2 linked regions of the Homo sapiens genome follow. The protein of the gene in region 2 interacts with the protein of the main gene of each other region in a pairwise test. Each region holds a gene or a part of one and is shown on either strand. Other genes may lie near its edges.

Region 1 (15,766 bases), on a different chromosome or scaffold from region 2:
AATCCCTGCTGTGAGCAGATCAACAGTGAAATTAAAATCAGCTGCAACTAATATACTCCTCTAAGAGTATATTACCAAAATACAAACCAAGACCCCCTCCTCTTCTCCCCTGATGGCCCTAACTCACTGGCCCTCAGCACCCTCCTCATCAGAGTCTCGCCCATCTTCCTCATCGCTGAACTTGAGCTTTTCAGTGTAGTCAACCTCTTCATGGGCCCCTGAGGGGAAATATGAGTATTAGTAACCCAAGCATTCTGCCCTCCAATCTTGGGAGGTAGTCTGGAACTATGTAACAAGATGGACTACCAATGCCAATATCCTTCCCTCCGAAGTCTAGATCCACCAATGAAGTCTTGTCATTCTTACTCCTCTCACCACTTTGCAAGGACTTGGTATTCCCCATCCATCCTCCCCTACTCTTTTTTTTTTTTCCTTTTAAAAGTCTCGCTCTGTTGCCCAGGATGGAGTTCAGTGGCACGATCATAGCTCACTGTGACCTCCAACTCCTGGGCTCAACTGATCCTCCCACCACAACCTCCAGAGTAGCTGGGACCACAGATGCACAGTCCACACCCAACTAAAAAATTTTTTTTTTTTTGTAGAGGTGGGGGGTCTTGCTGTGTTGCCCAGGCTGGTCTTGAACTCCTGGCTTCAAGCGATCCTCTCACCTAACACTCCCAAAGCACTGGGATTACAGATGTGAGCCATTGGGCCTGGTCTTCCTACACTTCAATGTCTGCCTTTCACCCACATAACCCTGTATTTTTTTTTCCTCATTAGGTTTTGCCTTTCAAGATCCAAATTCTTGACCCTTAATATCCACTTACCTGCCCAACCATCATCATTCTCCTGATCCAACTGATCAAACTCTTTGAGATTATCCTCTTTGAGAATAGAGGGACGACCCACAGGCTCTACTAAGCGCATTGGTGGCCCTGAGCCTCGGGGGCCCGCCACACGGGGAAAACGGCTGTACACAAAAAAGAAAATGAAATATGGCATGTTGTATAACCACATGCGAGACTGATCCTAGACTGAGCCTCCTGGCTAGAAAACCATCTCCTCCCCCAATAAGCTTCCCCTGCCCCCAGCCACAAACCCAGACCTGGATTGCTCACCTGGGCCCATCAGGAGTGGGGTATCGGTAAGGCCCCTGGGGTCCATAGGGCGGAGGGAACGGGAGATATGGGGGATACATCTGTAAAAGGGTCCAACAGTAGCTGCTCAGAGGGACAGTCATATACCCTTCTAGCTCCTTAAGCCTGCTATCAATCATCCTCCCACCCTCCCTTCTATCTCATAGGTCAAAGACTAAGTCCTGATTCCTAGCTCTCCAGCTTCCAGTGTAATCGTTCCAAGACAAGACACCAAGACTCACGAAAGGCGGCATCATTCCGCGGTAGGGAGGGAACTGGGGTGGGCCTGAAGGCTGTAGCCCACCCCGGGGATCATGACCATGATGAAGTTTGGAGTCCGGGCCCTCCAGCTCATCAGGGCCACGCCCACCTCCGTCCCTCCAAGTTGTAGAATCTGTATTTTGGAAAAGGTAGAGAGAGGTATCAATGATTGGAGGACAAGTGAACACAGCTGAAAGTGATGGGGAGGAAGGTGAATAAGCCAGCACCTAGCTCTGAGATGCAATAGGTAATGTCTTGGCCAAAAGGCAGCCACTCACTTTGGGGGCGGAGGCTTGGTCCGGGCCCAGACGACTGTTCGGCAGACTCCCTTTCCTTGGCAGCCTTGTCCTGGTCGCCAGCCGCCTGCAGGGTCGGAAATTCCTCTCGAGAGAATCGTGACAGTAGGCTTGATGCCCTTCCACCTATTAGGATGGGGATGCAGAACAGGAGACAGAAGACATTTCCTGAGGACATGCTATAAAAGTGGAAGACTCTGGCTGGGCGCGGTGGCTCACGCCTGTAATCCCAGCACTCTGGGAGGCTGAGGCGGGCGGATCACGAGGTCAAGAGATCGAGACCATCCTGGCCAACATGTGAAACCCCATCTCTACTAAAAACACACAAAAAATTAGCTGGGTGTGTTGGCGTGTGCCTGTAGTCCCGCTACTCTGGAGGCTGAGGCAGGAAAATCGCTTGAACCCAGGAGGCAGAGGTTGCAGTGAGCCGAGATTGCGCCACTGCACTCCAGCCTGGGTGACAGAATGAGACTCCGTCTCAAAAAAAAAAAAAGTGGAAGGCTCTGACAGGTACCAGACCATCAGGTTTCCCGCCTTCAAACTCACCCCCCTACAGAATAACTGCTTATTCCCCAAGGAGGTCAGTTCTGGCACCACTACACTCCATCATATAAGACTGAGACTTAAACTTGCTCATGTGCCTCCATGAAACTGAATATGGGTGGTCCTTGATTTAGCCAAAGAGGACCAAGGTCACTTGGCTGAAAATACAGTGCAGGGTTCATGCATCCCATGGTGCCCAGACACAGCTCCCCAATTAAGTGCTGCACTCACCATCTCCATGTGCTCCATGGGTGACGCTGGCTTGTGCCCAGGACTTTACCCCGCTTGGAACCAAAGGAGTGTTCTGGGGAAGTGTTCAGAAAGATGATAAATGATGTGGGTGGGGCAGCTATGAACCATTCTTCCTCCCCACCCCTCCAGTTCTCCAGGTACCTCGGGGGCTGCTGGGGGTCGTTTCGGCTGGTTGGAGGCAGGCGTCTGTGAAGCCGGCAGTGGCTGCGATTCCGGCGGCTGAGCGGTTGAGGCATCGGAACTGAGGGGACAGAATGGGAAGGTTATTCACACCTGAGATGCCTCCCTGACTTCTCCAACTGGTGGAGACTCAGGACTGAAATCATGCCCATTGCTACCATTTACAAATATAAGGACAAATTAATTTTGTCATCCTTTGTAGGCTGTTGTCTATTTTTTCATGCTCTCTCTCCAAGACAAAAAGCTAAAGTTTAGTACCATTCCTTAGTCATTTAACAAGGAACCTGCAATAGGTAAGAAAGGGACCTCTTCGTCTCTGGCTCAGACGTGGCTGGACTAAACCAAGCCCCAATGCTCCCTGAAGTTCAAGTTAAAATACCCATCACTCTAGGTCCCCCAAGCCTCTGTCTACCTCTTGGGGTCGGACTGCTCCTGTTTGCTTGCCCATCCTGTTCCGTCTTTTGGCACTAGTGAGACATTGGGGTCATTGCCTTTGTTCTCGGCTTTCAGGCTTGGAAGGTTGGCTGGAGGTGGCATACGCCGGGCAATGGCAACTTTCCCGAGACTCTGCAGGCCATGGCGAGGGGCAACTGGAGAACAAGACGGAGAGAGGGTCGAAAATGCCTCATGTGGGAGATCTGATGGCCTCCTATCCTGGGACACATTTATACATGTTGAATATTTTATTACCTACTTCCTCCAAACTTCTCTTAGAAGGGATTCCTTCCCCTGCCCTTAATAATCTCTGAAATCGCGCTGATTGTGGTGGCTCACACTTTGCAATCCCAGCACTTTGGCAGGCCGAGGCAGGCGGATCACCTGAGGTCAGGAGTTCAAGACCAGCTTGACCAAAATGGAGAAACCCTGTCTCTACTAAAAACACAAAATTAGCCGGGTGTGGTGGCGCATGCCTGTAATCCCAGCTACTCAGGAGGCTGAGGCAGGATAATCGCTTAAACCCAGGAGGTGGAGGTTGTGGTAAGTCAAGATCACACCATTGCACTCCAGCCTGGGCAACAGGAGCTAAACTTGGTCTCAAAAAAAAAAAAAAAAAAAAAAAAATCTATGAAATCCCTATCAAGAAGGCTGAGATATGTAACATTCAATACTTTTATGTGAGATTGGTTGATCATGAGCCTGCAAGAAGCAAGCTGGCCTCAAAGTTTCCCAAATCCACATTTATTTTCCTCCAATTCTTACGTGTCCAAAGACAGGGAACCACAGACACGCCTTTGTAGGAGGATAACTGGTGTTCACCCAGAGCCCACACCCCCTTTAAAGGACCCAGTGTAAAGTTGGGAAATCTCCTCTAGTCTTTTGGTATTTCTACTACAGCCACTTCCCTTTAAAGAGCTCTAAAACGTATGCCCCATGCATGCCTAGCTTTCAACCATCAGAAGCATCTTTGCAGGACTCTCACCAGCGGGTTTCTGGATCTCTAAGGACTTGCCCTTATACGTATCAAACAGGTTGAGCGAGGAATACTTCTTTCCATCCTTTCCCTTGGCAGTCGGCCCCGAGCGATCGGACATTGCGCTGGAAGCTCATTGAGTATGTTGGGTCCTGCAGGCACCTCCCCCAAAACGTGCCAGAGCCTGTGGGCCAGACAGCAAGTGTCTCAGTCTCTGTCCCCTGTACAGACCATAACAGAAACTTAAAAACTCCATTGCATTATCATTAGGGACTCAGATATGAGGCCCTCTGGTGTCTTTTCCTCCAGTCTATGTAAACTGCCCACTCTTCTCAAGCAACCATGATCTACTTAGCTCCCTCATAGCTCAAATGCCATGTTCCCTCCTTTCCCCCAGACACCTTTGTCAAGGAAATCTAAGTAAAAATCCAGCATCCTCCTAGTATAAACACTCTGCCCTTTGTGCCTGTCTACAAAGAGTAATTCCCTACAAGTAATAATCTCTTCTCTCTCCACCAAAATCGTTTCAGAGACTTACAACAGGACAAATTCAAGCAAGAGAAAACTAAAAAAGAAGCATACAATTCCATCAGAGAAGAAGAAACAACACTTTAGATTCCCTGTTTATTGGACACAAGCTCCCTAATCATGCCCCCAGGGCCCTGTACCCCAGGCTCCCAGCCCAGCAGCCTCGTGTCCATCTGGGAAGGTTTGCAGGAAGGTATGCTGGGAGTTTAAGGATTTTATGAGCTTGCTCAGCCGGAATGGGGGTTGGTACCAGAGAAATCCTCATAGAACAACTAGGGCTGTACATACTCCCAGGCTATAGGAACCTCAAGTATTTGAAATATCCCATCTTTTCCTAAACTTGCTCCTGTATTGGCTCCTGGAAAAAATCGCCTCCAGATGAAATACTGTTTTACCATATGAAGAACTGAGAAAAAGCATTATGGAGCCACCTTAGCACCCTGTAACCATGGGCCAGAAAACAGAGGGCCAAGGCCAGAGCCATCTTCGTTTTCCTATCCTCATTAAAAATGTCCATCACCAGTGTTTCTTTACTCGATACCTCCAGCTCCCTAAGCAAGCCGGACGACAGGTCTCTCAGTCCATTCCAGAGTGACCAGGCATTCGTTTATGGACGGGAACAGTGTAAAGAGATGAGAAATAGTGGGGAAGAAAGCAGGGAAATCCAGACAGGCCCAGAATGAAAGCTAAAATTGGGGAGAAAGAACTTTATGACAAGCTAGAGATAAGATGGATGTTGCTTCGTAGGTGTTTGAGGAGGCCAATCTGTGAAGATAAATATATGAAGGGAAAACGAATACAAGAGTCATGTAGCGAATAGACCAAAACTAACAGAAAATAATGAATACGAAAGCAGGTGGAAAATATATGGAAACAGGAATGGCAAAAAAAAAAAGGATGTAGACAACGAAGTAAGGGGGCAGAGGCCCAAGAAGAAAAACGGGGTTGGGGGAGAAAGGAGACGAGGAACAGGAAAAATGAAAAAGCAGACATAGGGCGACTGAGCAACATAGAAAGCAAAGATGCTGGGATAAAAGCAGGATTCTAGAGTGGGAGTGGCTCGACACGAAGAGGGGCGTCCAGAGGGGGGAACACAGCGCTGGATGATAGGAGGGGGTCCAATATGGAGGAAAAGCGCCCTTCCGAGAGAACCGTCGGGCGCGGCCCACCACCACGGGGCGGCAGCCGGGGAGGGGGCCCACAAATGGGGGTGAAAAGCCAGGAGCGCAGCGGAGGGTAGGGAGTTACGGACCCAGGCGCAGGGGTCACCCCCTGAAGCCAAGACGGTGGGTGGTTAGGGGCAGACTACGGATCCTGAATGAACTGCCGGAGGTGCGGGTCCCGGAGTAGAGGTACCGGAGGGGGAGGGGCAAGCAGGCCCGGCAGCAGGAGGACAAAATGGCGGCGGCTAATGGCAGCTTCTCCTCCCCCCGGCCCACCACCGCCGCCGCCGCCGCCACCGCCACCGCCACCACCTCTCCCGCGCCGGAAAAGGGCGTCAGCGCACGGTTCACCCAGACTCACCTGGCCGGGTGCGCGGGGATCCGGGACCCGGGCCTAGGGGCTCCCCGGGACGGGATGGCGGTGGGGCGGGGGAGGATGGCGGCGGATGGCGCCGGGTTCGGCTCCTCCCGTCTCCCTCGCTCACTCCGCGGCTGAGCCCCGACTAACGGCCCATCCGGGCAACCGCCGCCCCCGGGAGCACCCCCTCCCACCTCCCACCTCCCTCCGCGCCTAGACACGCCCCTTAATTTGCATAAAGGGCGGGGCACTTTCTACCCTAACCCTCTACTTCCAGGGCTGTCTTTAGTTTAAAAAAAAAAAAAAAAGGGCCGGGCGCGCGGAGCATGCGGAGGTTATTTGCATAAAGAGGAGGGACTTAAGGGCACTAGGACCCCGATTGGCTAAGGAGGCGGGCCCCCAGCGTCGGCCGTTGAGCCGTGTTGAGGGGGCGGGAATGCGGTGCAGGTCGGCTGGGCGGTTGGGACGCAGAATTTACACGACGAATGTGGGAGAAAGAGGCGGAGCGTGCGTCGGACGTTAGTAGAAAGATGGGAGCGGAGAGACGTTGGGACGCCAAAAGTGGAAGGCAACGACACACGGCCCGTGGCGCCTTCAGCTAGGGAGAAAGAGAGAGAGGACGGGGGCTGGCGGGCGGGATTAGCTGCCGGAGGGCTGAGTTTCCGCAGGCCTGGTAAGAGTTCCAGCTCTCGCATCCCTTTGCCGTGAGTTTGAGGAGGTGGTTGGAGCGGGGAAATGCACCAGAGGGGCGGGGCCTTCCAGTTATTATATTACGTCATGCAAATGAGGTGGCTAGACAGACCAATCCAAAGGCCCCGGGAAGCGTTTCGTCCGCACCACGCAGCGTAGGCATTCTTCGGGCAGTTCTACCTATTTGCATAATGTATGCAAATCATTTGAACAAAGATAGGCTAGGAATGACTCGTTCATCAAAATATGGGCAACCATCGACTAAGACGGACATTTAATTTTATAACCTATAATTTTCATGAATAAATTTTTATATTTGAAATTATTGGGAATTTGTAATTTCTTAACAATGGGTTTCATTTTGTGAAATGCAGTACTGTTACCCTCCTTTGTCTCTTACTACCCGATTCTAGAACTCTCTGCTCCCATCAGAGTTATACCCATTCAACAGATCATTCAATGACTATGATTTGAAGGCGCTGGAGATAATGCACAGGATATTATAGAAGTAGAGAAATAAGGCCTGGCGCGGTGGCTCACGCCTGTAATCCCAGCACTTTGGGAGGCCTAGGCAGGTGGATCACGAGATCAGGAGTTCAAGACCAGCCTGGCCAACATGATGAAACCCCATTTCTACTAAAAATACAAAAATTTGCCCTACGTGGTGGCGGGCGCCTGTAATCCCAACTACTCGGGAAGCTGAGGCAGAGAATTCCTTGAACCAGGGAGGCGGAGGTTGCACTCCAGCCTGGGTGACAGAGCAAGACTACGTCTCAAAAAAAAAAAAAAAAAAAAAAAAAAAAGAAGGATGGGCGCGGTGGCTCACGCCTGTAATCCCAGCACTTTGGGAGGCTCAGGCGGGCGGATCACCTGAGGTCACGAGTTCGAGACCAGCCTGACCAACATGGAGAAACCCCGTCTCTACTAAAAATACAATTACCCAGGCGTGGTGGCGCATGCCTATGATCCCAGCTACTCGGGAGGCTGAGTCGGGAGAATCGCTTGAACCTGGGAGGCGGAGGTTGTGGTGAGCCAAGATCGTGCCATTGCACTCCAGCCTGGGCAACAAGAGCGAAACTCTATCTCAAAAAAAAAAAAAAAAGAAAGAAGTAGAGAAATAAAATATGATTATGCCTGGGGTGATTGAGAAATGTTTCTAGAAAAACTCTTATTAAGAGATATGAGGCCGGGCGTGGTGGCTTATGCCTGTAGTCCTGGCACTTTGGGAGGCTGAGGCGGGCAGATCACAAGGTCAAGAAATGGAGACCATCCTGGCCAACATGGCAAAACCCCGTCTCTACTAAAAATACAAAAATTAGCTGGACTGGTGGCGCGTGCCTGTAGTCTCAGCTACTTGGGAGGCTGAGGCAGGAGAATCGCTTGAACCTGGGAGACGGAGGTTGCAGTGAGCTGAGATCACGCCACTGCACTCCAGCCTAGCGACAGAGTGAGACTACGTCTCAAAAAAAAAAAAAAAAGAAAAAGAAGAAAAAAAGGGCCGGGAGCGGGAGCAGTGGCTCACGCCTGTAATCCCAGCACTTTGAGAGGCCAAGGTGGGTGGGTCACCTGAGGTCAGGAGTTGGAGACCAGCCTGGCCAACATGAGACTCCATCTCAGGAAAAAAAAAAAAAAATGATATGAAGAATGATCGGAGTAGATATCTGTCAAAAATATATAAATAAATAGATATGAAGAACGAGTTAGAACTTACCCAAGTTTCAGAAGAAGGTGTACATCTCAGGTGCAGAGAACAGATTAGTGGAGGCATGAGTTTGGGGGCCTGTGCCTAGGCTGATATGGCTAAATAAAGGAGGCGGCTTATTCATTATGAAAAGTGAAGGCAGAAAAGTTTGCGGAAATCAGATGAGAATTTTAGTCAGAGGCTCAGTAAGATTTAAGATGACTTCTGTTTTCAAACTTCCAAAATGATTCTCTTCTCCCTTCTCCCCGGCCGGCTACCACACATACCGTTTTGTTACCCTTTGCAGCAAAATTCTTAAAAGGGATGTCCATAGTCATTGTCTCCAATGAGTTTCTCCTTCCAGTCTTTTTTTTTTTTTTTTTTTTTTTTTGAGACAGAGTCTCACTCTTGTCACCCAGGCTGGAGTGCCATGGCGTGATCTCGGCTCACCGCAACCTCCACCTCCCGGGTTCAAGCGATTCTCCTGCCTCAGTCTCCCGAGTAGCTGGGATTACAGGCACCTGCCACCATGCCCAGCTAATTTTTTGTATTTTAGTAGAGATGGGGTTTCACCATGTTGGCCAGGCTGGTCTCCAACTCCTGATTTCAGGTAATCTGCCCGCTTCGGCCTCCTGAAGTGCTGGGATTACAGGCGTGAGCCACCACGCCCAGCTGTAAATTCTTTGCTTTATTTAATAGCACCAGTTCTTTCATTCATCTACCCATTCAAGTGTTTTTTGTTTGTTTGTATGTTCGGTTTTTTTTTTTTGAGACGGAGTTCGCTTTTTAGTTGCCCAGGCTGGAGTGCAATGATGCGATCTCGGATCACCACAACCTCCACCTCCTGGGTTCAAGAGATTCTCCTGCCTCAGCTTCCCAAGTAGCTGGGATTACAGGCATGCGCCACCACACCAGGCTAATTTTGTATTTTTAGTAGAGACGGGGTTTCTTCATGTTCGTCAGGCTGGTCTCGAACTCCTGACCTCAGGTGATCTGCCCACCCCATCCTCCCAAAGTGCTGGGATTACAGGCATAAGCCATCGGCCCCGGCTCATTCAAGTTTTAAACATTATTGAGGGCTTATGATATGTCAGGCACAATAGCATAGGTCACTTTATCCCCATTTTTAGAAAAAAGCCTCACAGAGGCTGAGTGATTTGTCAAAGTGACAAAGCTTATAGTGGTGGAGAATGTTGGTTCATGGTATTCCTTGCTCTTCATGAAATCTGTCATGGGCCTGAGTACCTTGTTTGGACATGTGTTTTTGACCTGCCTGCATTCTTTGAGGTTAAGGCTGTCTTACACAGCTGGAATCCCCCTTGGTGCGTGAAACCATCTGCTGTAGTGGACACACTATAGCGTTGTTGATGGATTGTTCATATGGCCAAATCCTTGCCACCTTTCCCTCAAGACCTGTCTCTCCTTCCCAAACCCAGGAAAAAAATCACCCAAATAAAAACTAAGCTGACTTGATCTGGAGGAGGGGGTAATTTATTTAATTTGTTGACTCTGGCTTACAATTTTGTCTTCTGTTTCCATATCTGGGTCATTAGAAGCCCCTTCAATCCCATCATCCCTTTTCCCTTCAAATCAGGGCAACTCAGAGATAGCTTTCTTGGCTGGGGGGCCTGTTGGCTTTTCCTTTTCTCTCGCTTTTTCCTCATACATCAGGATCCTGGTTGAGATGGGAAGAGGCACAGGGATCAGGGAACACTCCTCTCAAGGGAATAAATCATAGGGTGCTAGGAAAGGCTAGAAGGGGATGGGGATGTGAGGGTGGAAGGGGGAAGAGGAAGGGCAGGGGTTGGAGTTTCTGGGGACCAGGACTATGGATAGGGATGGGGTCGGGACCTTGGAAGGGTCCCTCTAAGGATGGAAGAAGGGATGATGGGCAACGTGTAGAAATGTTGAGCCTGTGGACAAGGGTAGGGATGGGGGAGGAGAAAACAGGTAAGTACAGGGGAGGTTGGAAATTGACACTCACATTTTTAGGATGGCAGATCTCTTGCCCAGCATCATCCTGAGAAAGTCAGGGTAGCTGAACGTCTCCCCGGAGCCACTGGACACCTCTCCAATTAATTTCTTTAGCTCTAGGTGAGTCTTGGGGACTCCAAGTTTCTCCAGCATTCGTTTCAGGGACATGATATCTGGGGGCAGAGGATGGGGATGGGGAGAAGGTGGGGAGACCCTCTCTCTCCTCTCCCACTTCCGCATCCCCATTCTCCTTCCTCCCACTGTGGTAGGTGGGCCCCCTCCCAAATCATGAGGAATGGAGCATGTAGGAGAGACCTCTGTCTTCTTAGGCCTGCACACCACCCTGCCCCCGCAAATCACCCGTTTCTCACCAATATCGCCATTTCCATTAAGGTCAAACTCCATGTATTTCTCTGGGTGAGGGGAGAGAGCAGAAGGGATAAGCGCTGACTGGAGGGTTTTCAGCAGGGGACTGAGGAAGGGGTTGCCAACCAACTGCTAGGTGGAGGAGACAACGTGGAAGGAGGAGGAGGGGCAGGCAGAGGAAGTGGGGTTGGGGAGTTGAGGGGCCCCGCTAGGGTGTAAGGAGCTAGAGGGGATGCTGAGAGAGGCAGGCCCGGGAAAGGGACCGCAGTGTGGCAGGAGGGCAATAAAGGCAGGTTCCCCTTTTGCTACCACAAAAGTAAACTTTTTATCTCTGCTGTTCCTGCCTTGTTCTTGTGGAAATCCTAACCCTCCTACCCCCAGCCCTGTCTCCACCGCCTACAGTTTCCCCCTCACCTTTGAAGCCTTCCAGTTTGGAGGGCAGATCCTCATCACTGCTATATTTGGGATCGTCTAGGAATTGCTATGGAGGGGAAAATAAGAGCCAGGGTAGGCCCTCCCCATCCACGCCCCATCCCCCTGGCTCTGCCCCCTTAGTTCTTCCTTCTACCTTGTTGATCTCATCCAGCCTCTCTTCCTGCTGGGCCTTCAGCAGTCCGAAAGCTTTTCCTCCTGTGGGGTGAAAAAAATTAATCAGCCCTCATCCCTCCCTTCCTCTCCTTACCCTGACACCAGCCCGGGCTACCCTAGGCCAGCTGACTGCCCTCCTAGCCCACAGCCCAGGTCTGTCCATCTCATTCCTCCGATCTAATGCCGCTGCCTATCCCACCCTCCCTACCCTGTAAATCCCTGGTTTGGCTCATAGCTCAGCAGATGCTGGTAGAGGTGGGGAGACAGACCAAGCTGGAGGCCTCTGTCTGCAGGCTCTCCTTCTCTCCCACCAGTCTTCTCAGAAGCCTTCCTCCCAAACTTCCCCTTTCCCCTCATTCCTTCCTCCTCTGCCTCCCAGACCTCACTTCCCCATCAGGTTCTGCTGACACTAGCACCCCAGGAAGGAGGGGGAGCCTGGTGTGAAATGCAGATTAGAAAATAACATTCTCCCAAATTCCTCTTAAATGAGAGCCCAGTGTGCGCATGAAACAAATATTTTGATAAGCCACTGGAGGTGTGCAGGAAGGGCAGGAAGACACCAGGGATATTTATTCTCAGGAACTAGTATTTTTGAACAGGTCCAAGGTTCAGGTAATGATAAGACCTTGCATTTTGTCAGGTTTCATGAGTCTGGGCAGGCAGCTGTGGATAGGAAGACAAGGAAGGGCTGGCTGAATTTTTCTGCTCTGTAGATCGGAGAAGAATCTGAAGTCTGCTGGCAGCTCCAGGAGGGTGACAAGATGGGCACAGGGTTTAGAAAGGGAGAGAAACCTCACTCCCAGCCTGGCAGCTCCAAGGAGGCCCTTAAAAATATGGAAATGTCTAACAAAACATTTTAATTTGTTTGCTTTAGAATGTGCAACGTAACCCTCTCATCTTATCTCCTTTGAAATCTTTAGTAAAATCTATAGAGATCAGGAATTTAAGAGTTTAAGTAGATTCTTTGGAGGAACTGAAAGTGGTACTTAAAGAAACAGCGTTTGTGGACAGAAGAGCCAGGGAGTGAGGCTGACATCAGGTTTGCACACTGCACGTGCGTGCACACATGCAGGCATGTTTGTGTGATGGTGGTGCTGGTCACTGTGGGTTCAACAGAGTGGATGATAGCCTCTGACACATGCCTCCCTAGGCATAACCTTTATCCCCTCTGTCACTCTGTTTGGCCAGTCGCTTCTTGGAGAGGTGAGGACAGCACATTTCCCTCATTGAGATTTCCTGGTCCAAACTCCCTGCCCAGGGCTCCATCTACCCTGCCCCGGCATTGATGAAGACACCTTTCCTTCTCCCTTCCCCCCAACATATTTCCTTTTCTGTAGCTGGGAGTTTTCACTTCTCACTGCCCTCTCCCTGACCCAAGCCAGGTAGGGGAGATGCTGGAGTGGCCTCTGGCTGCTGCTGCTGCTTTTTTTTTTTTTTTTGAGTCGGAGTCTTGCTCTGTCGCCCAGGCGGGAGTGCAATGGTGCAATCTCGGCTCACTGCAACCACTGCCTCCTGGGTTCAAGCAATTCTCCTACCTCAGCCTCCTGAGTAGCTGGGACTACAGGCGCCCACCACCACGCCCAGCTAATTTTTGTATTTTTAGTACAGATGGGGTTTCGCCATGTTGGCCAGGATGGTCTCTATCTCTTGACCTTGTGATCCACCCACCTCAGCCTCCCAAAGTGCTGGGATTACAGGCATGAGCCACTGCACCTGGCTGGACTCTGGCTTCTTGACTTCCCTTTATTGCAGCTACATTCTCCTGCTGCAGAGAGAGCTGCAACCCTGTACTCCCAATGTTCTCAGTGCCTGCTGGGAGGAACTCACTTCTTTATTCATACGTTCACTCAACAGATATTTACTGAATGCTTACTATATGCCAGACATGCCTCTAGGCCCAGAGAACCCAACAAATGAAAACTCTTGTCTTCATGGTTGATCTAATTGGGGAAGGCAGACAATACAAATAAATAAGTATATTAAAGGTGCTAGGTGGCCAGGCGCAGTGGCTCACGCCTGTAATCACAGCACTTTGGGAGGCTGGGGCAGGCGGATCACAAGGTCAGGAGTTGGAGACCAGCCTGACCAACATGGTGAAACCCCATCTCTACTAAAAATACAAAAATTAGCAGGGCCTGGTGGTGCGTGCCTGTAATCCCAGCTGCTCAGGAGGCTGACGCAGGCGAATCGCTTAAACCCGGGAGGCAGAGGTTGCAGTGAGCTGAGATCGCGCCATTGCACTCCAGCCTGGGCAACAGAGTGAGACTCCGTCTCAAAAAAAAAAAAAAAAAAAAAAAAAAGGCGCCAGGTGCCTATGGAGGAAAACAAAGTAGGGAAGAGGGGACATAGGAGTATTATTGCCAATGGTCCCCAGTTTTTTGTTTTTTGTTTTTTGTTTTTTTTTTAAACGGAGTCTCACTCTGTCGCCCAGGCTAGAGTGCAATGGCTTGATCTCAGCTCACTGTAACCTCCGCCTCCTGGGTTCAAGCGATTCTCCTGCCTCAGCCTTCCGAGTAGCTGGGATTACAGCCACCTGCCATCATACCTAGCTAATTTTTGTATTTTTGTAGAGGCGGGGTTTCACCATGTTGACCAGGCTGGTCTTGAACTCCTGACCTTAGGTGATCTACCCACCTCGGACTCCCAAAGTGCTAGGATTACAGGCGTGAGCCACTGCACCCAGCTTTTTTTGTTGAGACAGAATCTCGCTCTGTTGCCCAGGCTGGAGTGCAGTGGCACAATCTCAGCTCACTGCAACCTCTGCCTCCCGGGTTCAAGCGATTCTCCTGCCTCAGCCTAACGAATAGCTGGGATTACAGGCGATCACCACTATACCCGGCTAATTTTTGTATTTTTAGTAGAGATGGGGTTTCACCAAGTTGGCCAGGCTGGTCTTGAACTCCTAACCTTGTGATCCTCCCACCTTGGCCTCCCAAAGTGCTGGGATTACAGGTGTGAGCCTGACTTGTCCCCAGTTTTAAATATGGTGGTCTGGCCAGACACGGTGGCTTACGCCTGTGGTCCTAGCCACTTGGGAGGCTGAAGTGAGAGGATCGCTTGAGCCCAGGAGATCAAGGCTGCAGTGAGCCATGACCGTGCCATTACACTCCAGTCTGGGCAACAGAGTGAGACCCTGTCTCAAAAAATACAATAAAATAATAAAATAAATAGAGTGGTTAGAGAAGCGTTCTCTGAAAAAGTGATATTTGAGCAAAGATTTCTTTTCTTTTTTTTGAGATGGAGTCTCACTCTGTCACTCAGGCTAGAGTGCAGTGGTGCAATCTCCACTCACTGCAACCTCCACCTCCCGGGTTCAAGTGATTCTCCTGCCTCAGCCTCCAGAGTAGCTGGGATTACAGGCACCTGCCACCACGCCCAGCTGGCTAATTTTTTGTATTTTTAGTGAGACGGGGTTTTACTATGTTGGCCAGGCTGGTCTTGAACTCCTGATCTCATGATTCGCCCACCTCGCCCTCCCAAAGTGCTGGGATTACAGGTGTGAGCCACCACGCCTGGCCGTTTGATCAAAGATTTTAAGCAAGCAAAGGAACAAGCCTCTGTCTTCCTAGGCCTGCACACTTCCCCAAATCACCTTTTTTCACTGATATCTCTGTTTCCATTCTGGTCAAACTTTATGTATTTCTTTGGGTAAAGAGAGAGAACAGACAGGGTAAGCACTGGCTAGAGGGTCTTTGGCAGAGGATCGAGGAAGGCATTGCCAACCAAGTGCTAGGTTGAGGAGAGGATGTGGAAGGAGGAGATGGGGCAGGCAGAGTGGGCTTGGGGAGTTGAGGGACCATGTAAGGTGGATATACGGCTAGAAAGAAAAATACTTATTTTTTTTTTTTTGAGACAGAGTCTCCATCTGTCGCTAGACTGGAGTGCAGTGGCGCGATCTTGGCTCACTTCAACCTCCACATCCTGGGTTCAAGCGACTCTCCTGCCTCAGCCTCCCAAGTAGCTGGGACTACAGGTGCGCACCACCATGTTCAACTAATTTTTGTAATTTTAGTGGAGACGAGGTTTCACCATGTTGGCCAAGATGGTCTCGATCTCTTGACCTTGTGATCCACCCACCTTGGCCTCCCAAAGTACTGAGATTATAGATGTGAGCCACTGCGCCTAGCCAGAAAAATATTTATTGATCCTAAAGTGGAGTCAGCGCCACTGTTGCTGCTAGTGTTGAATCCAGAACCATAGCTGGACATGGGATCAGAGGATGAACAAGAGATGCTGACTGGGCCTAGAGATGGCAAGGAGGAGGAGGAAGAGGAAGAGGAGGAATTAGTCAATTCCTAACAAAAGCGAGAGAGCAGTGCGTGCAGCTGAAGAAAGGAGT
Region 2 (15,643 bases):
AAAAAATTAGCCAGGTGTGGTGGTGGGCACCTGTAATCTCAGCTACTCGGGAGGATGAGGCAGGAAAATCGCTTAAACCCAGGAGGTGGAGGTTGCAGTTGAGCTGAGATCGTGCCATTGCACTCCAGCCTGGGCAACAAGAGCAAAACTCCATCTCAAAAAAAAAAAAAACAAAAAAACAGTGTTTCCTCCAAGCTGCCCATGAGACAGGCAGGACAAGGATTCTTTTATATATTTATACACACACACACACACACACACACACGCACGTTTATATATATTTTTGGTAGAGATAGGATCTTGCCATGTTGCCTGGACTAGCCTCAAACTGGGCTCAAGTGATCCTCCCACATCTGCCTCTAAGTAGCTAGGACTACAGGCTCACACCACCACACCGGGCTAATTGTTAAAAATTTTTTTTGTAGAGACAGGGTCTCCCTATGTTGCCCAGGCTGGTATTGAACTCCTGGCCCCTAGGGATTCTCCCATCTAAGCTTCCCAAAGTGTCGGGATTACAGGTGTGGCCACTGCACAGGGCCAGGACAAGGATTCTTAATCCCACTCCAGGATGGGAAACCCATGGCCGAGTGGGAAGAAACCAGCTGAGGTCACATCACCAGAGGAGGGAGAGTGTGGCCCCTGACTCAGTCCATCAGCTTGTGTAGCTGAGGTCTGGGCCAGGTCTAACCAGGCTCCCCACTCCTCCCAACCTGAGCCTGCCCTCTGATCTCTGCCTGTTCCTCTGTCCCACAGGGGGCAAAGGCTACGGGTCAGAGAGCGGGGAGGAGGACTTTGCTGCCTTTCGAGCCTGGCTGCGCTGCTATGGCATGCCAGGCATGAGCTCCCTGCAGGACCGGCATGGCCGTACCATCTGGTTCCAGGTTGGGCCCTACTGTTCACACAGGCAGAGACCCCAGGAGGCTGATGGGTGGAAACGTGGGGTCACAATAACTGGGGTGGTGATGCTCAGGGTCTGTCTAGACCCTCCAAGGACCACACTGTTCCTGAGGGTCACACCCCTCCCCTCCCATGCGTCCCAGGGTTGCAGCTAGTGGAAGTAGCCCAAGGCAGGTAGCCCAAGTGAAAGTAGCCAAGGGCAGAGCAGCTTTGCTGATGTGGACTCTAACATGGGGGATGTCCTAGAGGCTTCCTAAGGGAGAAGCTACACTGATCTGGATGGGTGTGTGTGAGTCCTGCCTCTCCAAGGAATACCGCCCCTGTGCCAACCCAGGCTGATTCCTGAATTATCCCCATCCCATTTTAGGGGGATCCTGGACCGTTGGCACCCAAAGGTAAGCTACTCCTAATGTAATAGGCTAAGAGAGCAGAAAGGACTTCACGCCTGCAAGGGCTACAGCACCCTTCTCCACCCTATCCCCCTGCAACCCTGGGAGTCACCCCTGGGCAGGATAGGACCCTCCAACTCCAACACCAGTGTCCTGCAGGGCGCAAGTCCCGCAAAAAGAAATCCAAGGCCACACAGCTGAGTCCTGAGGACAGAGTGGAGGTATGGCTGCCTGCTCCCGCCTCCTCCCCTGCACTCTGCAGCCCTGGCTGCCCCTCCCAGGCAGCTGCCTTACCCTAAGAGGGCGGGGGGAGTGGTGGGCCCTAACCAACCTCTGAACTGCTTTCTGAGCCCCTCAGGGACCCGTGTCTCCTCCATCCAGGACGCTTTGCCTCCAAGCAAGGCCCCTTCCAGGACACGAAGGGCAAAGAGAGACCTTCCTAAGAGGACTGCAACCCAGCGGCCTGAGGGGACCAGCCTCCAGCAGGACCCAGAAGCTCCCACAGTGCCCAAGAAGGGGAGGAGGAAGGGGCGACAGGCAGCCTCTGGTGGGCTTTCCTCATCACTCCCAGAAACTGGCTCTACAGGAGAGGATGGGATGGTGGCCTAGGAGCGCGTGTACAAAGGTGGGAGAAAGGCTGCCATGGCAGCCCCTGGAGTCTTAGCTGACCATCTTGCCTGTTCTTCCCCCAGGCCACTGCAGACCCCGGAAGGTCAAGGCTGACATCCCATCCTTGGAACCAGAGGGGACCTCAGCCTCTTAGCAGGAGGCTCTCCTTGCTTGCACTCACCCTTTCTTATTGTCTTGCCCTGCATCTGGGGGTCTGAATTTTTGGGAGCAGGCAATATCTGAAGGTGCAAACAGGCCCTACGGCTGTTCCCTGCACAACTCTCATGGTTTTAATTGTACCCCATCTTCCACATCTTTAAAGCTCATGTGAAAAATGCTGCATTTTTAATAAACTGATACATTTGAACTTCTTGGCACCTCTTGGTCTGAGATGGCCAGGTAGGAAGGGCCTGCTGTCCGGTCCTGGTGACAGAAGGCCCAGCTCCTCACAAGGCAAACTGAGCCCCCATCCCAGTCCTCAAGGCTCTGACTCTATCAGAGGACAGTTTGCCTCTGCAAGGACAGCCCCTCAGAGGTGGTACAAAGACCCTGGCCCCAGGCAGCCCAGGAGCCAGAGCTCCTCCAGTCCAGATTCTCCAGGGTCCAGGGCTGCCCCCTCATCCTGGCAGGAGCCAGGCAAAACCCACCCTTCGGCCCCTCCCCAGCCCCAGGCCCAGGCCCTTTACCTGCTGGCACAGGGGAGGGGCTTCTCAACTCATGGTCTCTTCACTGGCTTTTGGTGGCTCGAGGTCCCCAGTCTCTCCTGTGGGGGCTGCAACCCAGACCCTGCACGCACAGGTACCTTAGGATCTTGCCCCTACCCACCAAATACCTGGGAAGCCATCCCACCCCAGACTTCCCACCCCCACCCCAAGCGTGAGGATGGGCCCTAAGGGGACTGAGCAGCAGGGTTCCCGATCCAAGGATTTATTCCACAAGAAAAGACTGATCCCTGCTTTAGGCTGGGGAAGCAGAAATTAGGAGTCCCCAGAGCCTTCTACAAACAAAACCCCAGCCCCAGGGACTCAGTGTGGCGGAGGCTGAAGCACGAGCAACAGGGACAGCACTTGGAAGGGAGAAAAGGTGAGCTTCAGGCGGTTGTCCCGAAGGGTCAAGTGGCCAGCAGGGTCTGGTCGCTCCAAGAGATCGCAGCTGGAGAACAGGAGGGGCCATGAAGGCTCTGCGAGGGCGAGACTCGACCCCCGCCCCAATCCCACACCGCCACTCACAGGATGGCCTCCTGAACCGGCAGCGACAAGTGCAGCCAGCAGTCCACGTGGCTGCCGTGGGCCTCATACAGCCTCAGGACCAGCGAGCGGCGCTGGGGGCTGCTCTCCGCCTGCAGAGGAACACGTCTGGTGGGAGGGGCCGAGGGCAGGCCCAGTTCGGAACCCCGTCCCCAGCACGTCCCACCCCTTGCCTGCTTGACGGTCTCCAATACGACCGCGGGTGAAGACACGGAAAACGCACTCCAGGAGGTGGCGGGCGCTGGGCTGGGGGCTGGCAGAGCCAACAGGGGGAAGTTTAGGCTGTAGGCAGCTTGGATAACGCCAGCATCCTGGAAAGAGCCTGGGGTACGACCAGGAAACAATGCTGGTGGAGAATGGGGGCTACCCTCCCCTGTCCCTAGAAGGGGCAGGAAGCCAGGTTGCTGGGGTTTGGGCTCAGGGAAGGGCAGAGAGGTGTCTAGGGCTGCAGGAAGGCCCCACCGTCCCCAGCACTCACCCTTGTGCGGCATCAGTGCATAGGTGAACTCGTGGCGCCCCGTGTCAGCAGTAGCGTCCGGGGCTTTAGGCGCCCGCAAGCTGGGGTGAGGAGGGCGCGTAGGGGCCACGCTGAAGCTGTTGGAGTTGTGGTCGGGAAGACCCATTTCTCCATGCCAGCTCCCAGGCCTGGTGGGTACCCCACTTACAGCGAGAGGCTGAGGATGCTGCCTCGCACTGACGCGCCATACTTGCAGTCGTTGAGCAGGGCCAGCCCAAAGCCGTGTTCTGACAGATCCATCCAGCGATGGGCCCACACCTGGAGGGCAGATCCAAGACCCACTTGGTGGCCCTGTGCCCCTCTTTGTGCTCCCAGACTCCAGAGCTCCTGTCACTAGGCCGAGCACAAGCTCTAGAACCACACAACTGAACTCCAGCTCCCACTGTACGGGGCCCTGGGCATGCCACCCAACCTGCCTAAGCCTCAGTTTCCTTATCTGTGAAACGGGAATAAATAATAGTACTCACCCCATCGAATGATCATGAGTATCAAATTAAATGTAAAACTTTGTTTTTTTCACACAGGATCTCAGTCTGTCACCCAGGCTGGAGTGCAGTGGCTTGATCTCGGCTCACTGCAACCTCCGCCCTCCAGGATTCAAGTGATTCTCCTGCCTCAGCCTCCCAAGTAGCTGGGATAACAGGACATGTGCCACCACGCCCGGCTTTTTTTTTTTTTTTGAGATGGAGTCTCACTCTGTTGCCAGGCTGGAGTGCAGTGGCACAATCTCAGCTCACTGCAACCTCCGCCTAAAGGGTTCAAGCGATTCTCCTGCCTCAGCCTCCCGAGTAGCTGGGATAACAGGACATGTGCCACCACGCCTGGCTAATTTTTCTGTATTTTTAGTAGAGATGGGGGTTCACCATGTTGTCTATGATGGTCTCGATCTCTTGACCTCGTGATCCGCCCACCTCGGCCTTCCAAAGTGCTGGGATTATAGGCCTGAGAACACTGCGCCTGGCCAATTTTTGTATTTTTTTTTTTTTTTTTTTTGAGACAGAGTCTCGCTCTGTCGCCCAGGCTGGAGTGCAGTGGCACGATCTTGGCTCACTGCAAGCTCTGCCTCCCAGATTCACGCCATTCTCCTGCCTCAGCCTCCCAAGTAGCTGGGACTACAGGCGCCCACCACCACACCCGGCTAAATTTTTGTATTTTTAGTAGAGACAGGGTTTCATCGTGTTAGCCAGGATGGTCTCGATCTCTTGACCTCGTGATCCACCCACCTCAGCCTCCCAAACTGCTGGGATTACAGGCGTGAGTCACCACGCCCGGCCCAATTTTTGTATTTTTAGTAGAGATGGCGTTTCACCATGTTGGCCAGGCTGGTCTTGAACTCCTGACCTCAGGTGATCCACCCACCTCGGCCTCCCAAAGTGCTGGAATTACAGGCGTGAGCCACTGTGCCTTGCCAATGTAAAGCATTTAGTGCAATGCCTGGCACACACGTTAGGAAGCAGCAAATGTTGATTATCCTCTTCCTCCCCAGCCTGTTCCACACAAGCAGTCTCCCCAGCCAGGGAGGAGTCCAAGGCCACTCCCACCCTGCCATGTCAGACCTCAAATCGAGCCCAGTCCCAAGAGGTATTGTAGTGGGTAGGTCGCTGCAGGTGCCCAAACTGGATCTCATAGGTGGCCTGGGAACTCCGCACGCGAGCAGGGAACTCCACCTTCAGGAACTTGTGGGCCTCATGCCAGTGTACCTGGGAGTGGGAAGGAGGGTGGGAGTCAGGGAAGGAAGAGACACACCAAGGCCTGGGGCTGGCCCCTCCTTACCAAGCACACTTGGGGAAAACAGCCACCCCCTACCCCCCGACTACCTCGGTGTGGAAGCGGACATAGGGGCAGCCAACGTCCAGCACAACCTCCTGGCTAAGCCGACTGTTGGGGCTGATCTGTAGCAAGAACCAGGCGCTGCCCCGCAGGCCGCCCTCGGTGCCCACTGCCAGGGTCCCTGCCTGGCCCAGCACAGGCTTCCTATGGGACAGGGGTGGACATACTGATCCAGAGCAGCCTGTGTTCCCACCACCTCCACCATCCCCACATGCTGCCCAGCCTATACCGTGTCTCCAGGTGGTAGTCCATGACGTCCCATGCATCCCAGTACAAGGGGACATCATCAAATAGCACAAACTGGTTCCCCACGGCGCCCTCAGCAATGGCCTCCCTGGAAGGACATGGGATTGGTGCTGTACAACCAACTGACCTCGCTGTCTCCAGCTGCTCTTGGTGGGGTAGGGTGGAGTGAGTAGACCCAGTGGACAGGGGACTACTGCCCAGCCTGCCCTGCTCCATGTGTGGGTTCCAGCCCAGAGCCACTGGTGGGCTGCTGTGGGCAGTGTTGTGGCAAGGGGAGAGAGGAAATGGCCTGGGGTCTACTTGCCAGGCACTGGGAAAGGGCAATGAGGATTTGGCACCTGCCAGAGGCCACCAGGACCAAGGACGTCAGGCGACCAGTTGGGTCCAGCTTCACTCGGATGATGCCATTGTCCAGAGTCACGGAGCCATCAGTCTTTGTGGGAGGAGGCCTTGAGGCTGAGTCTGTAGGGGCTTCCCACACCAAAAGTCTTCCCACCCCAACCCCAGCCCCGCCTCACCACTTGCTCCAGACAGGGGAGCTCAGGACCCTCAGTTGTAAGAAAGTATCCCAGCACAGTTCCTGCCCCCCAGGGCATGCAGGACTCACCTCTTGCACTACGAACACAGGCTGCTGGGGCAGCAGGGGCTGCAGTGAGGTGGGGGGAGGAACAGGAGCATAGCCCATGCTGGGCACTGTCACCAGGGCTGGGGGTGAGGCCTGGGCATCAGTGCAGCCTTCCTGACCTTTCAGGAAGCTTGCGCAGGTGGGGATGGGTTGGTGGAAGATGTGCTACTACTCTCCAGTCAGGGGCACCCAGATCCCTCGGGGTATCCCAGGCCTGATCTGTCTGGCCTCCATCCTTCCTGCTGCAGTAGCAACCCTTCCCCTCAGCTCGTACCTAGGCTGTGGGCCCCGCCCGGTTTGGGCAGGGCCATCACTTCGATCCGCTTCCAGGGCAGTGTGTTGACGATGAGGAGGCCCTCAGGACCTGGCTCCCCAGCACACAGGGCTGCGGCTGCAGCGCTGAGCAGTGTATTGCCATGGGAACGGATGTCTGAGGAAAGACTGGCTGGTCATAGGTGGGCAACAGGTCTGGAATGTGCCCATGGGTATCCCACAGGGGACACTCTGGGCTCAGCCCTGGGGTTGGAGAGAGCAGGCAGGACTATTGTGAGCCTAACCTTCATAATGGCACATGGCTTCCTCTGCCACCATCTGGATGCAGCTTCCAGTCACCACATCATGGAACTGGTTCAGAAGAAGGAGCCTGCAGGGGCCAAGGGCAGGGATGGGAAGGCTGGGAGGGGCAGGCACAGAGGTAACTGCAGTGAGCAGTCAGGTGGATGGCAGGGACAGAACTGGGCTGACCTCCAGAGGTGCTGCAGCTGGGCTGCTGGGTATAGGAACTGGGCACTGCGGGCCAGGGCCAGGCTACTGAGCAGCTCCACGTCGTGCAGGATCCGCTCACATTCCCGGTTCCCCTTCTTGATCTGAGCCCAGGATGGGAAGATTAGTCTGGAGCCTGCTTAGCTGTCCCAGGACACCTTCCAAAGCCCTCCCTTGCTCAGAATCCCTGAGGACTCACCAAGGGCCTCGTGGAGAAGGCCTCTGGCGGGTGACCTGCCTTAAATGCCTTCCCTCTTCTCCCCGCAGCCCAAACCCTTCTTTCTTCAGGGGTTTCTGCCTCCTTCAAGCTTTCTTGACCAACCCAGGTCTTGAACTTCTCTCCTCCAAACTTCTCTTCCCCTAGATCTGGCCTGGGCTCTGTCCCCTGCTGCCTTCTCTGACCCTCTGCAGATCAAGGGCACACCCTCCCTGCACAGCCCTGCAACCTCCCCCTGACCTGGGCATGGGTGGTGTATGTGCCATTGTGCAGCTCCAAGAAGAGCTCCCCAACCCACGTGCACAGCTGCTCTGAGTCACTCTCCAGTGCTGAGAAGAGCTGTCTTGGAGAAGATAGCTGCACCCTGAGGAGACCACAAGCCTAGGTCTCCCAGCCTTGGAGACCACATGGCTCACCCTTCTTCCACACCAAAGCAAAGGATCCAGCTCCTACAGAGAGGAGCCACTCCAGAAAGCTCCCCGTTCACAGATGGCCAGCCCTGGACGCCCTAGGAGAGCCTCTCTCTCTGATGGGCTGGAGCCCTTACCAGCTTCAGCTTCTCCCCCACCCACCCCCAGGGTGGAAGTTTGGAGGAACCCGTGGTCTAGGATTGGGACAGGACAAGGTCCAGAGGAGGGGTTGGGCCCAATGTCTGAGGGAAGGCAGGGCTCATGGCAAGGGCCCAGGGTGGGGCTAAAGGAGAGCCAAGGCCTGGCCTGACCTGGGCAGCCCATCCGTATTGCTCAGGCGCTTCAGGCGGTCCAGCATGGTCTGGGTGGGGCCACCACCCCCATCCCCAAAGCCAAAGAGGAAGGCACTGTGGTTGGCCCGCCCCTTGTCCCGGTTGTTGGCCACGGTCTTCAGCACCTAGACAGGTGAGGGCAGGCCAGCATGGATCAGCCTGGAACAAGCCAGCCCTCTCCAGCCTGCCCCTACCCCACCACCCTAGGTGACCCCTCACCTCCTCCACGCTGCCCTGCATCCCATAGGAGTCGCCAGGTGGGAAGTGGACCAGTACACGGGAGCCATCCAGGCCCTCCCAGAAAAATGTATGGTGCTACCAGCAGGGAAACAGAAGCAGGGCAGAGAGGCCAGAGTCAGGGCTGAGGCAGAGCCAGGCCTTCCAGACTTGGTCCTGCCCCTGCCTGCTATGTGACCCTGGCAGAGGCAGAGTGAGGGTTTGGTGGTCTGTCTAGGACCCCACAATAAGGGGGAGAGGCAAATGGGCCAGGCGGGACTGAGGCCCACTCTGACCCTGACCCCCCGGGGGCCTGCTTACTGGGAAGGAGTTCACCAAATTCCAGCTCAATTTCTGGGTGAGAAAGCGCCTGATGCCACAGCCGTGCATGATCTGGGGGAGCTGTGCTGAGTAGCCAAAGGTGTCCGGCAGCCAGAACTGTGGAGAAAGAGGATCCTGGAGTGCAGGAACCAGAGCTCCAGGCGGACTCACCCCAGCCTCAGCCCCTCAGCACTCCAAGTCGAGCGCCAGCCCCACTCGCCCACAGCCTGGTGTAGCAGCTCTCAGCCTACCTCAGAGCACATCTTCCCAAACTCCTGCAGAAAGAAGTTCTGGCCCTGCAAAAACTGCCTCACCATGGCCTCTCCACTGGGCAGGTTCCCATCCTGGCAGTGAAGGAAGTGGGAGGCAGCCCAGGTCAGCGCTGGACGGGGAGCAGGCAGGCGCTCAGGCCAACCCAATCCCTGCAGGAGAAGCCAGGGCTGCTCAAACATGGGAGTTACAGCCAGAACTCAGGAAGGGCCCCTGTCCTTCAGGCCTGACTGTCCATCTGCCTGAGGGGGTGCCCAGGACTAGGCCATGCAACTTGTCACAGCGCTGGAGGCTCTCCTCCCCCTTGAAGTCCCAGGCCTTGAGATCCCAGGGACTAATGAGCCAGCCCTGCCACACAGCGGGGATGAGTGGCCCGTGGAAACTCACCAGCAAAGCCGGGAGGGCGGGGCTACCTGAGGGAAGGCTGTTGTCATACAGTTCAAGGCTGAGGAGTGCCCAGTGCACTTACCATCTCCACCCAGGTGCCCCCCACAGGCACAAACTGCCCACGGCACGCAAACTCCTGGATGCGGGAGTACAGGCCAGGGTAGCGGCTCTTCACCCATTCCAGCTGCTGCGCCTGTGGGCAGGTTGAAGGGAGCTGGGACCAGAGTGACAAGGGCCCCACCCAGGACTGAGCATATGGGACTCAGTGTGTGGCTGAGGGTGAGGAGCAGCCCTGACCCCAGGCCTGGGAAGCCTTCAGGGCCTGTGGAGCTCCAGGGAGGGCCACGTGCTTCCCTCCTCCCTCACAGCTGTCCCTCTGACCTGGGAGCAGGCAAAGATGAACTCAGGGTTCCGCTCCATGAGCTGCAGGGCGGTCACCCAGCTCCGGGCACATTTCCTCACAGTCTCTTTGAAGGGCCAAAGCCAGGCTATACGGGGAGTGAGGTGGAGGACAGAGGGAGCAGCAAGGCTGACCAGGCCTGGGCTGGGACTCCAGAGGGTCACCTAGCCCCCCTCCCATCCCAGGCCCTTCACCCTGGAAAGCCCTGTGGTGTCCCTCCTAAGTGGTCACTTCACTTCACTCCAGCGAGGTGGGAGGAGGGGCTGGGGAAAGGAGGCGGCAGTGCTATGAGGCCAATTATACAGGTCAGGAAATGGAGGCTCCAGGCCCCAGAATAGCCTCAGTCCTCTTGGGGAATTAGACATCCCCTAGAGGATCCTACGAGAAGTAGCAGGGACTACCCTGCCCCTGCACAAACTTGATGTATACCTGGGAACAGAGGCATGGCTCCCAGGATGGAGCCAGCTGTCCTACCAGAGGTGCTACAGCCTCTCCTGACTCCCAGGCTGCAGTTCCTCCCTTACCAGCCCAGAACCTCTCACACCTTACCCTACATCTTGGCACAGCAGAGAAAGCCCTTGTTCTGTGATCCCAAAACTTCGGCTGCATCAGAATCAATACCTTCAGGAGCTTGTTAAAAATGTGGATTTCCCGTAAAACTCAGACACTGCAAACTTGTCCAGGAAGCCTCTCTGGAATCCCCCAACCCAGCTGGAGTAAGTACCTCTCCTGTGCTCTCCAGTGCCTCAGACTCCCCACCATTGTGACACCAACTCTGCCTGCTGAATCTGTCTCTGTAATCCTACCCTCAATATCTAGCATGGGCCCCATGAGGCATCAGATTTTGTTGAAAGAATAAATGAGGCTGGGCACGGTGGGTCATGCCTGTAATCCCAGCACTTTGGGAGGCCAAGGCAGGCGGATCACCTGAGGTCAGGAGTTTGAGACCAGCCTGGCCAACGTGGTGAAACCCCGTCTCTACTAAAAATACAAAAATTAACCAGGCATTGTGGTGGGTGCCTGTAATCCCAGCTACTAAGGAGGCTGAGGCAAGAGAATCGCCTGAACCCGGGAGGCAGAGGTTGCAGTGAGCCGAGATCACACCATTGCACTCCACCCTGGGTGACAAGAGTGAGACTCCGTCTCAAAAAAAAAAAAAGTGAATCCAAAGCAAGCAGAGCCCACAGTCCAGCCCCCCGGCCCCGTTTTACAGACGGGGAAAACGCAGGTCCAAGAGGAGCAAGAACTTGCTGAGCATCACACAGTGCTTCTAGGGCACATCCAGGTCTTCAAGGGCACTCCTGCTTCCCCAGCCAGCCCAACCAGCTGCTGTCCTACCTGTATCAATGTGGCAGTGCCCTGTGGCATGAATGGTGTGTTGGCTTTCACCCCCATGTTGGCCAAAGAACCTGGAGGCCAGGGCCTGGGCCACTGGGAAGGTCTCGGGCTGGGCAGGGTCACACACGTTCACCATCTGATTGGCTGTGTACAGGGCCTGGAAGCTGCGCTGGTTGTCCTTCCCGAGGCCCTGCAGCAGGGTTCTGCCCCTTAATCCCTTTTTCAAGCACAGCTTCCAGACCTAGGCTCCACTGATCTCAGGGCTCTCAGCAGAGCTCCCCTGACCCCCAACCCTTTTTCCCTGCTGGTCCCCCTGCTCAGCACCGTCTCCCTCCTCCCCTTCACATAGGAAAATTCTCTCAACCCTCAAGCAGGTGGAAACCCTCGTCCTACTCTGGATTCCCAGAGTCCCATTTATCTGACCCAAAGAACAACCTTCTTGGAGCAGGGCTCTAGAGGGTAGCAGGGGGTACAGGGGGTGTCAAGTACCTTGGCTATGCCCAGCAGCAGCTCCAGATCCACCAGGAGCATGTGGACATCCCGGTGGAACACAGCTAGCTCAGCCCGGCTCAGCTGGAACATCTTCTCAGGGTCAGGGGCTGCAATCATGCTTCCCTTCCCGGCCCCCAGGAGCCCATTGCAGGCTACTTCCACATAGAGAGTGAGGCTACAAAGATGGGGAGACAGCCTCAGGCTAAGGGACTGGCACAGTACTCCGGGGACTTGGGGAAGGGGCACCCAGGAGGCATCCAGCTGAGCCCAACCTGTCTGCTTCCAGGATCCACTACCCAGAGGATCCCACAGTGTGACAAGAGTGCATGTGGGAGGGTTGTGGTACAAACACCAGATGGATCCCATGTCTTGCTGTCAGAGAGAATAAGTAGCAAAGTTTGGAACCATGTAAAGTACGCTGCTGTTTAGTCTTATATTTCCAAAGTTGTCTTTGCAAAGCACTGCCTTGGTCTTGGAACCCTCTTTGCATATTAAAATCATGTTCGGATCTCCCAGGCTCAAACTTTTAGACCCAAGATCTAAAACCAACACGGCCAACATGGGCGGGCCATTCATTGGAGAACAGGCTGGGCTGTGGTGATGCCATACTTAGGCTTCAGAGAGCAAACACGACTTCCTTAGGGAGGCCTTCCTGACTCCACTTCGCTGCTAAGTCTAGAGCAAATTCCTCAGTGGAGTACCCAGGATTTCCTTCCAGAGCCCTCAGTTTTGTAATTATATGAGTGAATCTGTCTCCCTTTGTTGGCAAGGGCTATTTTATTCACCACCATACTCCCAGTGTCTGAAAGCATCTGAAACAGTGTCAATCTATATAAAATACATTCATAATGTCTAAGAAGTGTTTTTAATGGTGTCATAAAATGTCCATGTTATAACATGGAATGTAAGAAGTCAGGATACAATCTTAACTAGTAAAAACTATACCGGGATGAGCCGGGCACGGTGGCTCATTCCTGTAATCCCAGCACTTTGGGAGACTCAGGCAAGTGGATAGCCTGAGGTCAGCAGTTTGAGACCAGCCTGGCCAACAGAGTCAAACCCCGTCTCTACTAAAAATACAAAAAATTAGCTGGGCATGGTGGTGGGCACCTGTAATCTCAGCTAGTAGGGAGGCTGAGGCAGGAGAATTGCTTGAACCTGGGAGGCGGCGGTCGCAGTGAGCCGAGATCGTGCCATTGCACTCCAGCCTGGGTAACAAAAGCGAAACTCCGTCTCAAAAAAATCCAAAAAAACCCCCCCGAAAAAACAAAAAAAACTATGCCGGAAAGATACACCAAGAACATGAATACTGGGCCAGGTGCGGTGGCTCACGCCTGTAATTCCAGCATTTTGGGAAGCTGAGAGGGGCGGATAACCTGAGGTCAAGAATTTGAGAGTAGCCTGGCCAACACGGTGAAACCCTTTCTCTACCAAAAATAAAAAAAAAATAGCTGGACGTGGTGGCACACACCTGTAATCCCTGCTACTCGGGAAGCTGAGGCATGAGAATCGCTTGAACCTGGGAGGCAGAAGGTACAGTGAGCTGCGATCGTGCTACTGTACTCCAGCATCGGCGACAGAGGGAGACTTCGTCTCAAAAAAAAGAACATGAATGCTGAGATGTTAATAATGTTCATCTCTATTCTAGGGAGTGGAATAACGGTAGTTATTTACTTCTTTGTGCTTTCCTGTATTTACCACAGGCAAACATTGCTATTATTTTTGAGACAAGGTCTCACTCTGTTGCCCAGGCTGCAGTGCAGCGGTGTGATCATGGCTCACTGCAGCCTCATCCTCCTGGGCTCAGGTGATCCTCCCACTCAGCCTCCCAGGGTAGTGTGGGTCACTGCACCCAGCCCATTATTTTTATGGTTAGGAAAAAATCATGCTTTTAAAAGCAAACAATGAGATGTGAGGATGATTGTGCTAGAGCAGAGGCGGGCTTATGAGATCACTCTGGGCCTCAGCTCCTCCTTGCTCACTGGTACTCCCTCCCTGACAGCACTGGTCAACCAGGGCACAGGGACTCACCTTCGGGGGTCTCTTTCCCCCAGCCTGTCAGTCAGGACATAGCTGGTCTTCTCACCCTCTTTGGTTAAACCCTAGTAGGGAGGGGAGTGAGAGAGACAAGGCTTGAGGCTTTTGGACAGTTCAGGTAAAGTGTAAGCCATGGGGAGTCAGGCCCCTCCATCTGGTTCCCAGCTCTGGGTCCTCTCTCCCAAGCAGGGCCAAGATTGGCAAATCAGGGACCCTTGGCAGTAGATGCCCCAACTCCCATGGCAGCCAGCACCATGACCGTCAAATAGCCCCTGTTTACCAGTGGCAAACCCATGGTCTTATGGGAAGGGCCCTGGGAAGGGGTTAGGCAGCCTGAGTGTGGATTCTGGTGGCCTCTGCACCCCTAAATAAATACCGGGAAAGAAACTCCGTGAAGTCAGGGGCAGGTTTGCCTCATTCCCTGCTACACCCTAGTGCTTAAGGGTATGGCCCAGAATGGACACCAGGAGATATTTGCTGAGCCAGTGAAGGGAGGAAGGGATGGTCTCTGCCTTCTTGTAGCCAGGAAGAACAGTCTTAACCCCAGATTGAGAGTCAGTCCAATTTGAAATAGAAGCTGTGTGAACCTGAGTGAGTCAACTACACATCTGTTTCTTAATTTGTAAATGGGTATAAAGACCTACTAGATAGGAGTATAAGGACTAAACCTGATAAGGGTGGAGCATGAATAAGACACTTAACAGTGGTTATAGCTGGGGAATGGGATGGGTGATAAGGAGAGATCCATTACTTTATCTAGAACTGTTTGAAATGTTTTCCTATAAGTTTGTATTATACACAATAAAAACTAAGGACCAATTGCACAGATGCCCAAGTGGCAACTTCCCTAGTCCTGAAATCCTGATACCACCCTGTGGGCAGAGCAACTCAGCTGTGGCTTCTCCAGAGTCCACAGAAGAAGGGCTGTAGTCATTTCAGGGCTGAAATGTGGCCATACCTGGCCCTAGGACAGGGTTCCTCACCTGGACAGGTTCTCCATCACGCCACACCAGACCTTCTCCATCACTTTCCCAGCAAAGGTGAACTTCCTGGCCCACCCATGCCTCTGGGATGGTCAGCTCCACCCGGAACCAGCAGGTCCACCATCTGCAAGAGAGCTGTTGTGATAGGCCTAGAGGTAGAAGTCCTATCCTGATATCCTTCCTTGGATAAAGTGTCGGCAGGGGCTTGAAACTCTCCAAGCATCTGCAGTGTCACAAGGTACTCAGCTTTGAGTCACAAGAAAGGAGCAACAAGGTGAGAAGCAAGATGAGGGAAACAGGCAGAGGCGTCAAAGGTTCGTGATCCCTAGGGTGCCCTTCCTAAGGGATGTCCAGAGGCGGCCACGTGGGAATGAAAACCATCCCCTGAAGACCCAGGGACCAGAGAGCTGTTCCCAGCAGAGGGTGCTGCTCCCAGCAGAGGGTGCTGCTCGATCCCACGTAGTTGTCTACGGCAGAGGGCAGACAACGAAGGTGTGGCTGGGAGCTGGGTTGGGACTTCCCCTAGGCCTGTGGCCCCGCCCACCCGCTGGGCGTTACCTACGTGGGTCCGAAGCTGTCGCCGACCTGCGCGGGGCGGAAGTCCCGCTGGACTGCCTCCTGGTAGGGAAGTCTCTCCGGCGTCAGGAAGCTGGAGAGCACAGCCACAGGGCAGCTGGCCCCAAAAAGCCTGCGTGGGACGGGCCGGTGGGCACATGCTGGAGGCCGCCCCGTTTCCGCCTGGGGGCCAGCTGGCCGGTGGGGCCGCACTTTCCCTGGATCCTCCGCCAAGAGGGCTGCCTGGCCGCTCCGCGGCACAGTCCATTCCCTACCCCCTCCTCCCCGGCCCCTGCCCTGCCCGCGGCGGGCACTTTGTCCCGCGGCCCGGGTGGCTGCAGCTTAGGTTTCTCCCCGGAAGGAAAGCTTGAGGCGCACGGTTGCGGTCGGCCGGCTGCGGGGGACCAGGGGCCACACCTGCCGCGGAGGTTACAGTCGGTAAAGTAGAGCGGCGACACGAACTTCTCCACCCGCTCCAGCGTGGTGCGCCAGTGCTTCAAGGCCGGCGCAGCCGCCATCGCCGGGCTCTCGCTCCTCTTTCCGGAAGGCCCCTGGCGCTACCG

The links.
Region 1: the proteins of MAN2C1 (region 2) and PRRC2A interact in a two-hybrid assay, tested with the Homo sapiens proteins (one study listed by BioGRID and IntAct).

The regions. Positions count from the first base shown.
Region 1 is NC_000006.12:31,611,224-31,626,989, reverse strand, and holds the start of PRRC2A (protein PRRC2A), read right to left. Parts: upstream 6,276-15,766; 5' UTR 6,132-6,275; intron 4,301-6,131; 5' UTR 4,201-4,300; coding exon 4,089-4,200; intron 3,912-4,088; exon of another isoform or gene 3,780-3,911; intron 3,259-3,779; coding exon 3,081-3,258; intron 2,730-3,080; coding exon 2,630-2,729; intron 2,541-2,629; coding exon 2,468-2,540; intron 1,820-2,467; coding exon 1,676-1,819; intron 1,531-1,675; coding exon 1,379-1,530; intron 1,199-1,378; coding exon 1,119-1,198; intron 971-1,118; coding exon 828-970; intron 219-827; coding exon 128-218; intron 9-127; coding exon 1-8. Other genes in the region: AIF1 (allograft inflammatory factor 1), read right to left, coding at 10,480-10,886, 11,254-11,320, 11,408-11,469, 11,636-11,660. UniProt on the Homo sapiens protein: May play a role in the regulation of pre-mRNA splicing.
Region 2 is NC_000015.10:75,352,986-75,368,628, forward strand, and holds MAN2C1 (alpha-mannosidase 2C1), read right to left. Parts: upstream 15,623-15,643; 5' UTR 15,599-15,622; coding exon 15,498-15,598; intron 15,214-15,497; coding exon 15,088-15,213; intron 14,650-15,087; coding exon 14,526-14,649; intron 13,608-14,525; coding exon 13,537-13,607; intron 11,681-13,536; coding exon 11,503-11,680; intron 11,204-11,502; coding exon 11,014-11,203; intron 9,764-11,013; coding exon 9,657-9,763; intron 9,469-9,656; coding exon 9,358-9,468; intron 8,963-9,357; coding exon 8,870-8,962; intron 8,736-8,869; coding exon 8,619-8,735; intron 8,397-8,618; coding exon 8,301-8,396; intron 8,207-8,300; coding exon 8,061-8,206; intron 7,704-8,060; coding exon 7,580-7,703; intron 7,227-7,579; coding exon 7,105-7,226; intron 7,004-7,104; coding exon 6,918-7,003; intron 6,791-6,917; coding exon 6,635-6,790; intron 6,454-6,634; coding exon of another isoform or gene 6,441-6,453; coding exon 6,343-6,440; intron 6,207-6,342; coding exon of another isoform or gene 6,169-6,206; coding exon 6,074-6,168; intron 5,824-6,073; and 18 more. Other genes in the region: NEIL1 (endonuclease 8-like 1), read left to right, coding at 754-881, 1,265-1,292, 1,446-1,507, 1,668-1,833, 1,979-2,049. UniProt on the Homo sapiens protein: Cleaves alpha 1,2-, alpha 1,3-, and alpha 1,6-linked mannose residues on cytoplasmic free oligosaccharides generated by N-glycoprotein degradation pathways.